2 linked regions of the Homo sapiens genome follow. The protein of the gene in region 2 interacts with the protein of the main gene of each other region in a pairwise test. Each region holds a gene or a part of one and is shown on either strand. Other genes may lie near its edges.

What was found. The genes of interacting proteins can lie anywhere in the genome.
Region 1: the proteins of APOC4 (region 2) and SYT16 interact in binary tests that used the Homo sapiens proteins (3 or more experiments, as listed by UniProt).

What each region holds. Positions count from the first base shown.
Region 1 is NC_000014.9:61,990,462-61,998,134, reverse strand, and holds part of SYT16 (synaptotagmin-16), read right to left. Parts: intron 2,260-7,673; 5' UTR 2,116-2,259; coding exon 1,593-2,115; intron 1-1,592. UniProt on the Homo sapiens protein: May be involved in the trafficking and exocytosis of secretory vesicles in non-neuronal tissues. Is Ca(2+)-independent.
Region 2 is NC_000019.10:44,937,556-44,945,472, reverse strand, and holds the start of APOC4 (apolipoprotein C-IV precursor), read right to left. Parts: upstream 3,237-7,917; 5' UTR 3,196-3,236; coding exon 3,120-3,195; intron 725-3,119; coding exon 583-724; intron 334-582; coding exon 168-333; 3' UTR 1-167. UniProt on the Homo sapiens protein: May participate in lipoprotein metabolism.

The sequences.
Region 1 (7,673 bases), on a different chromosome or scaffold from region 2:
TAATAAATGTGGATATTGGGTAGGTTCTCAAACTCTCTCACCATCAATTTTCTCAACTGTAAAGTGAGAGTAATAACAGCATCTACCTCTTAACATTGTTAGCTTTCCTTGTTGCTGTTCCATCGTTAATTATTATTTGATCTCCTACCCAACACTGTGCTCATTGTTAAGAAAACAGAGATGAATCTATGGCATGGTCCCTGACTTCCTGGAGGCTCCAATCTAGTGAATAAGCATCTCTGGAAAGGCCAGATGAACACAATTGTTTTACTGCCATTAGATTTTACAATTACAAAAATTAGCAAAATTAGTGGTATGCCAAATTCATATCAATTTCAAATATAGTTCAACCTTTTCAAGAATGTTCTAAAATAGGAATCGAAATTTCAACTCAAATCTAAGAAATTCTACTGCTGGCCCAGATATTTCTAGAATATTTCTATAGCCAATTTAAAAGACTCAAAATTGCAATTAGCTACAGCTTATCAGGTTCAGAAAGAATATCAGCCTACCTCATTTTCACCAATTTATTCTAGCATTTCAATGTTACCTTAATTTGAATAAAAGTATCAAGAGAGCATTATGAGAAGAATATGAAATTGTGTTTCTTTATATGCCAAGACTTCATATATCTGGATAAAACTTTTCCCTAAAAAGACAAAGCTAATAGGAATCATGGAAAATGAATGAAGGGACTATGAGGTATTCCAGAAAAGTCTGCTCTCTCCAGCAAGAGGGACATTGAATAACTTTGTCTTTAGATCACATAAATGACTCACCAATCTGTGTGACTTATATGTGCATTACAACTACACACCATGCACACATACCCAAATCCCTTCTGTGTATATCATTTACCTCTGTCCCTTAACCAGGTGGAATGTCCTTACTTCAAGGTTAGAGTATTAGAGGCATGAGAAATTCATGCTGGAACACACCTCAGCTACTTTTAGAGAGTTAATTACATTTTTATCATATTCAATATACATTTATTGAAGGCCCAATATGTGCTCAGTTCTCACAGCATAAATCTTTATAGGCAGTTTTTATTAAATGTGTCCTTACCATTCAGAGCTAAAAGAAAATCAAGCTATTCTTATTTCAGAGATTTCCTATCCACTGTCATCTCACATCACGTCTCAGTGAAACACTGTGAGAAGTGTTCTTGGAGTGTTATCAACTAAAAATTCTGCGATAAGTACGGCTTTTTGCACAGGATTTCACACTGAATAATATAGTAACATCTAGAAATTCCTAACCTAGAAGAAAAAAAGAACATTTTGCAAGATATTTTTAAAAGCATGACATGTGCACAAGGGGCTTCTCAAACAGAATCCACAGACTCGTTTTTCACCATTTCACTTGCTCAGAACTATTGTTTTGAAATATGGAACTCCCAAACGTGGATCCTCCAAAGCTTTATATATTGAAAATATTCCTAAGGATTATATCTCTCAATCAGAAGCCAGTATGTGGGAAGGTATAAGAGAGAGAAAAATAAAATCCACATGATAACTAAAAACAAGTCAAAATAAAATAAGTAGAAATGCTCTTTGGAGGAACGCAGAGAAAATGATGACTGGCTAGCTTACCTTGCTTTTTTCCATTAACAGTTTCTAAAGTACCAGGGAGCTGGCTGTCAAAGCCATGTTGAAGGCCACTTCTTTGCTTTTCAAGGTGATGCTCTTCCTCCGCAATAGAAGAAAGCACATGTGGTAACTTGCGGTCATCACTGGCCCAATTGGGCCACTGGGACATTGTGGAACATGAGTCCTTTGCATGTTGGCTAAGGCTTGGGCTTGAATTTTGGGCAGAGTCCTGCAAATCACTATTACAACATGAGAAATGATCCACTTCAAGAAACAAGGAATTTGCATCCTCTTGACTCCAATCATTGTCTTGTTCTTCATCTTCAAAGTACGTTTCCTGAATCTGAATATTATCTAAGTCCTGATCTAGTTTGTCACTCAATTTAGAGTCTTGTTTGCTTATGTTAACCAGCGAAGCAGATAACATATCTCCTGCTTGCTGGAGAGCTTCATAAACCCGAGATATCCAGGAAGAGAAAGGCTGGAAGAAGTTCTGAACATCCTGAGACGCCATGGCCAACACCATGGCCAGCTATCTGATGTCTACAGTGTCCAGTTGTTCAGTTCCTTCAGTGCTCTGGATTGAATGTGAACTATAGAATAAGCATGTTGAGAAATTAATTTGGAGGTCTCTTAATGGCTGTGAATATTTCACTCTCAAAACTTCCAGCTGAAACAGAGGAAAGAAATACTTACACCTGTTAAAGTTACAACCTCAGACCCATCACCAGATACCTACAGACGATGTCAAACAGCATTTGGGCACAAAAAGGGATCATCAGGAAAATCTTAAAATAGTTACATAAAAATGACTGTGAAAGTCTAGATGTAGATTATTTCAATGCCTATTCACCTCCATAGCCATGTGGAAAACTTCCATTAGCAGTAATGGGTTCTGTTCACGTGGACTGAGAGAAGTCTATCCCCATAGACCATCCTTAACAGTGTGAAAAGGATAAATGAATCTTCATTAAGATCCAATTGGGCATGACATTTCAAAACGCAAAAAAGGTCAGATGTTTCATCTACAAACCTGCAGATCCCAAAGAGCTGACTAATAAGCATCTCTGCTTTATGACACTAAAGTTTATACTTGCAAAGGAAGTATGTGTCTGGAATTAAAAAGCTTTAAACAAATCTTAAAATAGGATTTTATATTTTTATGCAATCTCTAGAAATCATATCTATTCTTGGGGAGCAATCGCTGAAAAACTGAGGGTGGCAAATGGATTATCTAGCTTACTGAAGACATGTCCCTGGAATCTCATTGCTTTTGTCTATGTTCCAACCTCCCGAAGATAGATAGCTCTCCACAATCTTTCAGACTCCTAAATCACACTTCATCCCACAAGATTTACAGCCTGAAGGAAGCAGCTCCAGGATATCAACAGAACCACAGGACACTATGAAGACCCCAGAGCTAAATATTTATACTTTTACATGTATATGTGCATACAATGTATACATACACATATGTGTGTATATTATGTGTGTATATATCTTATTGCTATTACAGTGTTCATCAACAGCTCAAGATGAACGTTACAAATGACTAGAGGGCCTAACACACTGCTTAAACTTAATTACCCAATATCTTGTATAGCAATAACTTCCTTTTAACTAAATCTACTAGCTATCCCTTAGTCTCTTGACCTCAGCCACTGCATGTGATATGACTACTTACATTCTAAAAATTTTTTATTAGCCATTCATGGATGCATTGACTTATTCAATAAACAAATATTGATTATCTATTAAATGCTGGCACAATGCCAGGGATAAGGTAATCCTGAGGGCTTTGCCTCCATACAGCCCACATTTCAGTTACAGGGGAACTGAGTTCTCCACATTTCCCCCCTATGCTGAATAATTCATGTGTCGCTCTTTCAGGCTCCTCCTTGTCTTCCCACCACCTACATGTATACAACCAAAACTTGTCCTATGGCTTCCCTTCCCTGTTATATTCACCAGCTGCAAGAGTAGGCCCATCCCTACATTTCAATTAACACCTTTTTGAAACTCCAAAATATACATCTCCAGCCTTTGCTCAATTTTTCTTTCCAGGCTTGTATCTGTGGCTGTCAAAGCCAATGATTCTCAAACTCTGGTGTGTCAGAAACACCTAGTGAGCTAATAAAGAACACAAAGGCCCAGGCTGGTTGAAGGAAAAGGGCCTAGTCTGAACCTTGGGATTTTTGGCAAGTACTCCAGGTGAGTCTGACACCCACGGAAGTTTGAGAAATACTGATAGACTTGGATGTCTCACTAAAATCTCAAATTCAGCTCATCCAAACCTAGTGTATCACTTTGCTACAAGCGTTCATCACTCTAGACTCACAACATGGGGGATTGTGAATTTCTCTCTTCAACACTACCTTCTTCCATTCCAAACTCCGTTAGCTTTTGGTCTCCAAAGATTCTCTTTCATCATATTTTGTACAGTTATCTCATTCCCCACACCCTAGTTCCCTCACATACTACATACCTAGTTCGCTTCATATGCTCTTCTTACCCAGACTCAATTCATTCTGTTTGCTCACCATAACCTGATTTTATATGAGGTTTACACCTGTCTCCTGCTCTAGAATGGAGGCTCCCTGGATGGCAGGGATTGTCTGTTTAGTTCTCTATTTTATCCCCATTGCCTAGAAGTGTGCTGAGCACATAGTGAATTCTCAATAACAAATCCTATTAAAAATCATGCAAAAAACAACACCTAGCATATATTATGTACTCAGTAAATTGGTTAAGTTGATGGATAAATTCTATCCAGAACTGTTAAAAAGATGTTAAACAATGTTATCACATAAGTTCCCTGCATAGTAACAACAGTAAAGATCCTTTTGCCATTTGTTACATCCCATTTCGCCACTCAAAGTTTTTCGGGTTTTTTTTTTCTCTGCAAATATTTTGTGTAAGTTACTAAGCTTCAGTGCGTCACAGATTTACAAGGTTCTCTCTGAGATTCCAGTGGCTTTAGCTCCCACGGCCATCTTTTTGGTACCTTAAACTTTTTAAGCCAGAAATGACATGTTTTCCTTAATAATTCTTCCATCATTCTATTACACACAAAAAAACTTTGAGTTTTTTGTTGTTGTTGTTCTGAATTTTTTAATTTTTTTTATTTCAGTTCTGGGATACATGTGCAGACGTGCAGGTTTGTTACATAGGTATACATGTGCCATGGTGATTTGCTGCACCCATCAATCTGGATCTAGGTTTTAAGCCCCACATGCATTAGGTATTTGTCCTAATGCTCTCCCTCCCCTTGCCCCCCACACCCCCACAGGCCCCGGTGTGTGATGTTCCCCTTCCTGTGTCCATGTGTTCTCACTGTTCAACTCCCACTTTTGAGTGAGCATATGTGATGTTTGGTAGAAAACTTTGTTTTCATATGCAACCCAAAATCTCTGAATTTGAGCCAGCATCTTCTTGTCCAAATCTTCAAATTAGTACAGCTCATATTCTTGGCCTCATATCCCCTTGGTTTCTATAATCTCTGTTCATCAAAACGAAAATGAAAAAATTCATTTTTTACAAAAATTGACAGTTCATCAAAATGGCAAATTTTGTAAAAAATGAATTTTGATCATTCTCCTAGTTTTAAAGAAAAAAAGCCATTATGATTCCCTGTTACTTAAACTGCAAAGTTTGAGCACTGGTGCTGTCAAAATCACTACTCATTTATGTTTGTTGATATAGCGTTTTTTAAAAATTAATTTGAATGTTTCCAACTCTATATAATCTTCACCTCTCCCTGTTGTTTACAATCCACTCGCTTCACTCATTTCTATGTAGCCTGCCCGACCCCTGGATGCATTTGAATTTCCAAGCCCCACCCTATAGGATAAAGTTCAAATTCTGTACTGTGGCATACAAGAGGAGAAGTGCTCAAAAAAACAATAATAATAATTATCAGCACCATCCAACTGGGCTTAGTGCTGGGGGGATCCTAAAGGCTTCCTGCAAAGTGTAAACACTTTAATTGCTGTATCACTGGGTCTGAGGAGGTCTAGAGGTACAAAAGGACACTGGAAGGGGCTTCAGATCGGTGGCTATTTATCAACCAGCTTGGAACTAATTTCAGGACAACAGCAACTCACGGAGCTCCCGCCTTTTGTCCTCACTGAATACCTAGCTGTCTGAGCTGTCCGCAATAATGCTGCCGCGCCATGAGAACTCAGCCTTTCCTTACCACTCCTCGCTGTAAAGTCCTATGTGCCAGTCTCACTGACACACTAAGCATTTTCCAAAGTGACTGTGCTCTTTCCTGACTTCTGTTTGTTTTGCCCAGGATGACTTCTCTCCCTAAACTGCCCGATACTCATTTTTTATGAGGAAATGTTTATTGCTTCCTCTGTCAACTCTTCATCTACAATCAAAGGTGTGGCCTCAGAGTGTTTTGAATGTGCCTTTATGATATAACGTTTCCCTCGGTATAATGGATATTTGTCAGTCTTCCTCTTCCAATGGACTGGGAGTCCACAAGTGCTAGGGCTGTGCTTATACTTTGTAGCTCCAGAATCCACACAGGGCAGGGGCTCTCCATGTTCCATGAATGAATGAATGAATGAATGAATGAATGAATGAATGAACGAACAAAGTTATTAGTGAAAACATTTAAAGCTAAGTAAACCTGATTCCTTTCTATTTATTCATCTCTAAAGTGGCATTAACGCACTAGATGACTTTTAACACCCTTTCTGCTCTTAAATCCAAGAATTTGCCATTGTGTGCCACAGAACATTGTAATATTGAGGACGGATACAACCAGAAGCAAGATGCCTTTTCATGGAATAGTTCTGTACTTTTTTGTCAATAACCATTGTGAGATGATCCCAGAATAATTGGAAAGAAGCCAAATCTCAGTCTTTATATAAAAGAGTGTCCAGTTGCTATATTCTAAAATACTCAAAAAGAAATGAAACCTACAGCTAGAATCTGAAAAACTACCTAGTTAGCAACGCCAGAGATCTTTCATTTTATGCTAAATCAGCCTAAAGCCAAAGAGGCCCAGCACTGGCAGGGTAACCATGGAGATATCTTTGGGGCTTAGGTAAATTTCAACTTGATTGGTAGAGCACACCAAGGATAATAATGCCAGATATATACTGTATCCTACTTCTTTGGTGGCTTTCTTACAGCTAACAAGAAGACAAAGTAGCTTCTGGTGTTTTAGAAAACACACACACACACACACACACACACACACACAAATGAAAAACAGAAAAAAAGTCCAGTTCCCTGGATTAGAAGGAAAAATACATTTAAGGTCTTGTCATATCTGAGAAGGCCCATTATTACAATTGAAATGGTTCATGATATCTCATCACTATGGAAGTATAAAATGAGACAACAAAAAAAGATGGTGTGTGTGTATGTGTGTGTGTGTGTTTACCATACAAGCTTCTATCACAAACATGACCTGGGAAGATTTACAAAGTATTGAAGTACTCAGAATAAACTGACAATCTAAGAAAGAATTAGTAGCAATTGATAAAGATTTTAAAAAGCCATAAATAAATATATTCTTAAAGGCTACTTTTTTAAAATCTTGGTTTAATTGGAATTCTATTTTAATTAAGATCATTTTGTACATAGGAAATGACTAAGCAGTAAATATTAAAGAGTTGTGTTTCTGTAGAAAGAAAAACTGTCAAATTCCTGAGCCATATGTTTTATCAAATATTTTGATTGTTCTCACCAAAGCTAACTGTGAACAGAGAAGAGGTATTCCATCCCAGAATAACAATGCTCATAGTCCTTTAAGGGTTGTTAGTTAAATCTTTCCAACCCCATTTTCTATCTGATGGGGTTGCTTGCAGGGTTGGGGGACAGTTACGACCTAAGAAGAAATACCAGATTCTAGAAGCTGTGCTTTAAAAATCTGTTATTTTGGTGAAAGCTAAAGCAGAAGCCTGTATGCCTGTGTGATTTTCAAAGGATTATCAACTAACTCCTGGAGAAAGTCAGACACATTCTGAAAGACAAGAACATGTTTCCAATAATATGGTCCCCAGGTAACCAAACATCAAATCAAAATTGTATACAAGTTCATCTACTAAAGTGTGCTGATGTTCATCA
Region 2 (7,917 bases):
AGAAGTATGAACTTTTTTTTTTCTTTTTGTTTTACCCCCAAGAGATCTCGCTGTGTTGCCCAGGCTGGTCTCGAACTCCTGGGCTCAAGCCATCATCCTACCTCAGCCTCCTGAGTAGCTGGGACTACAGGCACCCGCCACAACCACACCTGGCTTTTATGAACATTTTAACCCTGGTCCTTGTCCCCACAGACAAGCCTGGGGCACAGGCTGTGGGTCTTCTTCAAGAGGCTGTCTTTGGATTCGAGGAACCAGGCCTTGGTGAGCGGACCCAGGTCCCTCAGGTGGTCGTCATAGTAGGTCTGCATGAAGCCCCGGAAGGTGCTCGGGCTCCTACAGGAGAGAGGACATCACAGTGGAGGCCCCAGCTCTCCCCAGGTGTTCTCTGCCCCATTTATCCGCTCCTCTCTGTGACCTAGGAGTTCCTGCTCTCAGCTCTAACCCTCCACTCCTCCCAGACCTAGGGGTCACAGCCCCACTCCCACCCTTTCCTCCTCCCTGAGACTCAGGGGTCCAGGCCCCAGCCCCTCCTCCCTCAGACCCAGGAGTCCCCTCCCACCACCCAGCCCAGCACACCCTCACCAGAACCATTGCCACCCGTCTCTGGTCCTGTTCACCACTGTCTCCAGCAGCTCCTTCATCCTGCCCCTCACCAGGCTCCAGCGACTCATCTTTAGCTTTGGTGGGGGGCTCAGGGTTCCTTCCTGGGCCTCTGGCTGGCATGCTAGGTGGAACCAGAGGGCAACTTGGGTAGGCTGGGACCCTAGAATCCCCTTCTCCCTTTCCCTCCATGCTCATCCTGTGTCGCTCCCGGTGGCCCAGGGGCAGCCCCCTGCCAGTCCTCTTGCCTCCTGCCTTTACCCTTATGTGTCCCCTGACCGCTAACCCCTCTTTAACCATCAGCCATCTCTTTTTTTTTTTCTTTTTTCTTTTTTTTTATGAGACAGAGTCAGTCTCTTGCTCTGTTGCCCAGGGTGGAGTGCAGTGTCATGATCTCGTCTCATTGCAACCTCCACCTCCTGGATTCAGGCAATTTTCCTGCCTCAGCCTCCCGAGTAGCAGGGATTACAGGCATCTGCCATCATGCCCGGCTAATTTTTGTATTTTTAGAAGAGATGGGGTTTTGCCATGTTGGGGCCTCGAACTCCTGACCTCAAGTGATCCACCCACCTCGGGCTCCCAAAATGCTGGGATTACAGATGTGAGCCACCCCGTCCGGCTGGGCCATCTCTTCACCTTGTGTCAGTAGTCCCTCCTGTCACCCTGTCTGCCTGTGGTTCCCCTCTAATGGCCTCTCTAATTGCCATCCTCTGATGCCTCCCTTCACCACCTGATTTTGCTGCCCAGGAACTACCCCCTTCTCCCTTCGTTCTCCTGTGACCCCCACCCTGTCTGAGCTACCTCTGTGGACAGTGGAGGGAGAGCAGGAGGTGACTTTCTGCCCCCAGGGGCAGACATTGGCTTAGCCTTGCTGTCAGTTCCTCTTTCCGGGCCAGACCTTCTACCCACGCATCTGGACAAAGCCTCGCCTACAGAGACCAGCCGTCACGCGGGGGCCACATGTAGCTAGCTGTGTGCCTTGGCCGGTGACTTATCCTGTCTCCCCAGGACTGTTTCTCCTTTTGTAGAACGGGGTAATAATATCTACCTCAGGGTTATCGTGAGAATTAAGAGTTACTACATACGATGCACATGGAATGGTGCCTTGCACATTGTCTACATACGTGTTAAATTTTTTTTTTTTTTCAGACGGAGTCTCGCTCTGTCACCCAGGTTGGAATGCAGTGGCGCGATCTCGGCTCACTGCAACCTCTGCCTCCCGGGTTCAAGTGATTCTCCGGCCTCAGCCTCCCGAGTAGCTGGGACTACAGGCGCATGCCACCATGCATGGCTAATTTTTTGTATTTTTAGTAGAGATGGGTTTTTACCCATCTGTTAGCCAGGATGATCTCAAATCTCCTGACCTTGCGATCCACCCGCCTCGGCCTCCGAAAGTGCTGGGATTACAGGCATGAGCCACCGTGCCTGGCCCTGTATTAAAAATTTAAATTTCTACTGGATAATGCTGATCTAGAATATGATCCCATTTTAACATAAAGTACATGGCCGGGCGTGGTGGCTCATGCCTGTAATCCCAGCACTTTGGGAGGCCAAGGCGGGCGGATCACCTGAGGTCAGGATTTCAAGACCAGCCTGGGCAACATGGCAAAACCCTGTCTCTACCAAAAATATAAAAAAATTAGCCAGGCATTGGCCAGGCGCAGTGGCTCACGCCTATAATCCTAGCACTTTGGAAGGCCGAGGCAGGCGGATCACGAGGTCAGGATATGGAGACCATCCTGGCTAACACGGCGAAACCCCGTCTCTAGTAAAAATACAAAAAATTAGCCAGGCGTGGTGGTGGGCTCCTGTAGTCCCAGCTACTCGGGAGGCTGAGGCAGGAGAATGGCGTGAACCCGGGAGGCGGACGTTGCAGTGAGCCAAGATCACGCCACTGCACTCCAGCCTGGGTAACAGAGCGAGACTCCGTCTCAAAAAAAAAAAATTAGCCAGGCATGGTGGCGTGTGTCTGTAGTCCCAAATACTCTGAAGACTGAGGCAGGAGAATCCCTTGAAACGGGTAGGCGGATGATGCAGTGAGCCAAGATCGCACCACTGCTACCACTGCACTCCAGCCTGGGTGACAGAGTGAGACTCCGTCTCAAAAAAAAAAAAAAAAATGCATATGCAAAACACAGACGTACACACCAGCACACACTCACCCCCTCACACATGTCCACACACTCAAATATTTTGCACACACATACCCCACAGAGAGACAGGTGCACACAAATACACATATGCACACAGACATGCACTTTTTTACCACGACTGCATACTCCCACTTCCACGCACGCACGTGCACACACACAGATGATCCCAGTTTGTACCAATGTGACATTCACACTTCACTCTCAGCCACCGACACACACACTCCCCGACACGCACATGCATACGCACGCCATGAAACGCACACACTCCGTACTCATGTCTCACGTGGCTACAGAGCCACAGGACACACAGCCACACTCACACCCACCAGGTGTGGGCCCCACATCCCTCCACCCACTTCTTCTCACCCCCAATGCAGGCCAGGACCAGCACGCAGAGGCACAGGGCAGGCAGGGCCTGGAGCCTGTTTCTGAGGAGGGACATTTCTGGGGGTTCCGTGCCTCTGTCCCTCTGTGCTCAACTCTGCGGGCCGGGGGAGGGGAGGCTGCACAGAGCAGGGCCCTCCCCCGGCCACCTCCCCGCTTGGCAGAGACTTCAGAGAGCAGGGCCCAGGTGACAGTGGCAATCAGAGGTCATGCCTCTGTGGGCCTCCCTCCTTCTCACCCTCCCACACAGTGCCCTGAGAGAAGACAGAGGCTCTTGAGCCTCCTGCACTGAGGCAGGTTCAAATCCTGTCTCCACCTCCCATGACAGCCTCATTTGCTGGCCTCAGTTTCCTCCTCCATAAAGTGGGAGGCACAGTACATATTTCAGTATATTACTTGAACAAATACAAAGAAAGGCGCAGTGGCTCACGCCTGTAATCCCAGCACTTTGGGAGGCCGAGGTGGGCAGATCATATGAGGCCAGGAGTTTGAGACCAACCTGGCCAACATGGTGAAAAACCCTGTCCCTACTAAAAATACAAAAATTAGCCAGAAGTAGTGATGCGTGCCTGTAATCCCAGCTACTTGGGAGGCTGAGGCAGGAGAATGGCTTGAACCCGGGAAGTGAAGGCTGCAGTGAGCCGCGATCACACCACTGCACTCCAGCCTGGGTGACAGAGCAAGACTCTGTCTTGAAACAAAACAAAACAAAAAATGAAGAAAGCTCTTACCGTGGAGACTGGCAATATAGGTGCTCAAAGATCATTGCTGTTGGCCAGGCGCGGTGGCTCATGCCTGTAACCCCAACACTTTGGGAGGCCGAGGCAGGCGGATCACGAGGTCAGGAGATTGAGACCATCTTGGCTAACACGGTGAAACCCCATCTCTACTAAAAATATGAAAAATTAGCCAGGCGTGGTGGCAGGCGCCTGTAGTCCTAGCTACTCGGGAGGCTGAGGCAGGAGAATGGCGTGAACCTGGGAGGTGGAGCTTGCATTGAGCCGAGATCGCGCCACTGCAGTCCAGCCTGGGCGAAAGAGCAAGACTCCGTCTCAGAAAAAAAAAAAAGATCATTGCTGTTATTATTATCTTGTGTCTAATTTCTCCTAGTCACTGGGCTGCAGGGCCAGGCTTGTGGTAGGGCCTCAATAGGGCCCAAGGGTTGATGAGAGGAAATAGCAACACAGTCTCATGTCTCCAGCCTCTGTTTCTTCCTAGGTGGGCTCGAGCCCGATCACTTCCAAGCATTCCTTGAGTTCTCAATTCCAACTCTTTCTCCTCTGGGTGACTCTGGCTTCAGATGGACCTGGGCTTCGAATCCCTCACTTCTTCACCGTGTGACCTGGGCAAATACGTTTTCTTTTCTGGGGCTCAGTTTGTTCAACTGTAACACGGGGTTGATAGGGAGCACCTGCCTCCCAGTGTCCTCATGCAGGACGGCTGAGGCCTATGCAGGAGAGCTGCAGGTGCACATAGTAGGAGGTCATCAACATCAGGCCCAGGGCCAGGGCGGTGGCTCCCACCTGTAATCCCAGCACTTTGGGAGGCCGAGGCAGGCGGCTCACTTGAGGTCAGGAGTTCAAGACCAGCCTGGCCAACGTAGTGAAACCCCGTCTCTACTAAAAATACAAAAATTAGCCGGGTGTGGTGGAGCGAGACCTTGTCTCAAAAACAATAACAACAACAAAAACCAACAAAAAACCCACATCAGGCTCGGTCCCAGTGCCAGAAATAGAGCATTTTTCTCCTGAAGGACCCAGCTGCACCCCAGGGCACATGGCTCAGGGGACTATGGACTGGATTCTTTTTTTTTTTTTTGAGACAGAGTCTGGCTCTGTCGCCCAGGCTGGAGTGCTGTGGCGCGATCTCGGCTCACTGCAAGCTCCGCCTCCCAGGTTCACGCCATTCTCCTGCCTCAGCCTCCCGAGTAGCTGGGACTACAGGCACCCGCCACCACGCCCAGCTAATTTTTTGTATTTTTAGTAGAGACGGGGTTTCACCGTGTTAGCCAGGATGGTCTCGATCTCCTGACCTCGTGATCCGCCCGCCTCGGCCTCCCAAAGTGCTGGGATTACAGGCTTGAGCCACTGCGCCTGGCCTGGACTGGATTCTTTTGTCTACGCTTGCCAGACGAAATAGAGGAGGCCCAATTACATTTGAATTTCAAATCAACAGTGCATGACGTTTTAGTATAAATATGTCCCATGAAATATTTCAGAATTATACCAAAAAGTTTTTTTTGCTATTAATCTGAAATTCAAATGTAACTGAGCATCCTGTATTTTTACATGGCAAATCTGCAAACGCAACCTTGGCCACAACCTGAACAACTGTGCAGGACTGTCTTGACCCAGATGTCTGCCTTGGCAGAATCCTGTCCATCCCAGAGGCCCCAGCGTGAGCACAGTAGGTGCGCAACAGATGTCCCCTGGAATTCCTCTGTAGCAATCATCAGCAGATTGAAAACACCCAGAGTTTCTGTTTGGGATGACGAAGACATCCTGCAAATAGTGGGGATGGTTGCACAACAGTGTGAATGTACTTAATGCCACTGAACTGTACACCTAAAAATGGCTGCAATGGTTAAGTTTTTTTTTTTTTTTTTTTTTTTTTGAGGCAGAGTCTCACTCCGTCACCCAGGATAGAGTGCAATGGTGTGATCTTGGCTCACTGCAACCTCTGCCTCCCGGGTTCCAGCGATTCTCCTGCTTCAGCCTCCCGCGTAGCTGGGATTACAGGTGTGCGGCAACCACACCCGGCTAATTTTTTGTATGTATGTATGTATTTGAGACATAGTTTCGCTCTTGTTGCCCAGGCTGGAGTGCAATGGTGCGATCTTGACTCACTGCAACCTCCGCCTCCCGGGTTCAAGCGATTCTCCGGCCTCAGCCTCCTTAGTAGCTGGAATTATAAGCGCCTGCCACCATGCCCAGCTAATTTTTTGTATTTTTAGTAGAGACGGGGTTTCACAATGTTGGCCAGGTTGGTCTTGAACTCCTGACCTCAGGTGATCCACCTGCCTTGGCCTCTCAAAGTGCTGGGATTACAGGCGTGAGCCACCATGGCTGGCTCATTTTTTTGTATTTTTAAAGAGACAGGTTTTCACCATGTTGGCCAGGGTGGTCTCAAACTCCTGACCTCTCAGGTGATCCATCCACCTCAGCCTCCCAAAGTGCTGGGATTGCAGGCATGAGCCACTGCGCCTGGCTGCCCAGCTAATATTTTTATTTTTTGTAGAAACACAGTTTTGCCAAGTTGCCCAGACTGGTCTTGAACTCCTGGGTTCAAGTAATCCTCCCACCTCAACCTCCCAGAGTGTTGAGATTACAGGCGTGAGCCACCACACCCGGCCATGTTGTTTATATTTTACCACAATTATAAAAAAACAAAAACAGCCAGGTACTGTGGCAGGGGCTTGTAGCCCCAGCTACTCAGAAAGCTGTGGTAGAAGGATTCCTTGAGCCCAGGAGTTTGAGAGTCCAGCCTGGGCAACATAGTAAGACCCCGTCTCTTAAAAAAAAAAAAAAAAAGCTGGGCACGGTGGCTCACGCCTGTAATCCCATCACTTTGGGAGGCCAAGGCGGGCGGATCACGAGGTCAGGAGTTCGAGACCAGCCTGACCAACATGGTGAAACCCCCGTCTCTACTAAAAATACCAAAAAAAAAAAAAAAGTTAGCTGGGCATCGTGGTGGGCACCTGTAATCTCAGCTACTCAGGAGGCTGAGGCAGGAGAATTGCTTGAACCTGGAAGGTGGAGGTTGCAGTGAGCCGAGATCGCGCCACTGCACTCCAGCCTGGGCGACAGTGCGAGACTCAGTCTCAAAAAAAAAAAAAAAAACAGGCCGGGCGCGGTGGCTCACGCCTGTAATCCCAGCACTTTGGGAGGCCGAGGCGGGCGGATCACGAGGTCAGGAGATCGAGACCATCCCGGCTAAAACGGTGAAACCCCGTCTCTACTAAAAATACAAAAAAATTAGCCGGTCATAGTGGCGGGCGCCTGTAGTCCCAGCTACTTGGGAGGCTGAGGCAGGAGAATGGCGTGAACCCGGGAGGCGGAGCTTGCAGTGAGCCGAGATCCCGCCACTGCACTCCAGCCTGGGCGACAAAGCGAGACTCCGTCTCAAAAAAAAAAAAAAAAAACAACAAAAAACAAGGGCCAGCATGGTGGCTCGTGCCTGTAATCCCTGGTGGCAGGATCACCTGAGCCCAGGAGTTAAGACACTAATCTGGGCAACATAGGGAGACCTCATCTCTACTAAAAATAAAAAAAAAAAATTTAGCTAGGCGTGGTGGCATGCCCCTGTAGTCCCAGCTACTCAGGAGGCCGAGGTGGGAGGATTGTTTGAGTCTAGGAGTTCAGGGCTACAGTGAGCTATGATTGTACCATTGCATTACAGCCTGGGTGACGCTGTCTCCACAACAAACAAAAGCCCAAAATAAAAAACAAAAACAAACCTACTGTGTGTTGTGTTATGATTGGTGTGGGGTTCAGAGCCTGACTCTACCTGTTGCTTCTTTTCCTTTCTTTCCTTCCCTCCCTCCCTTCTTTGTTTTTTGAGATGGAGTCTTGCTCTATTGCCCATGTTGGAGTGCAGTGGCGCGATCTCGGCTCACTGCAACCTCCATCTCCTGGGTTCAAGCAATTCTCCTACCTGAGCCTCCCGAGTAGCTGGGACTACAGGCGCCTGCCACCACACCCAGCTAATTTTTGCATTTTTAGTATAGACAGGGTTTCACCACGTTGGCCAGGCTGGTCTTGAACTCCTGACCTCAGGCAAT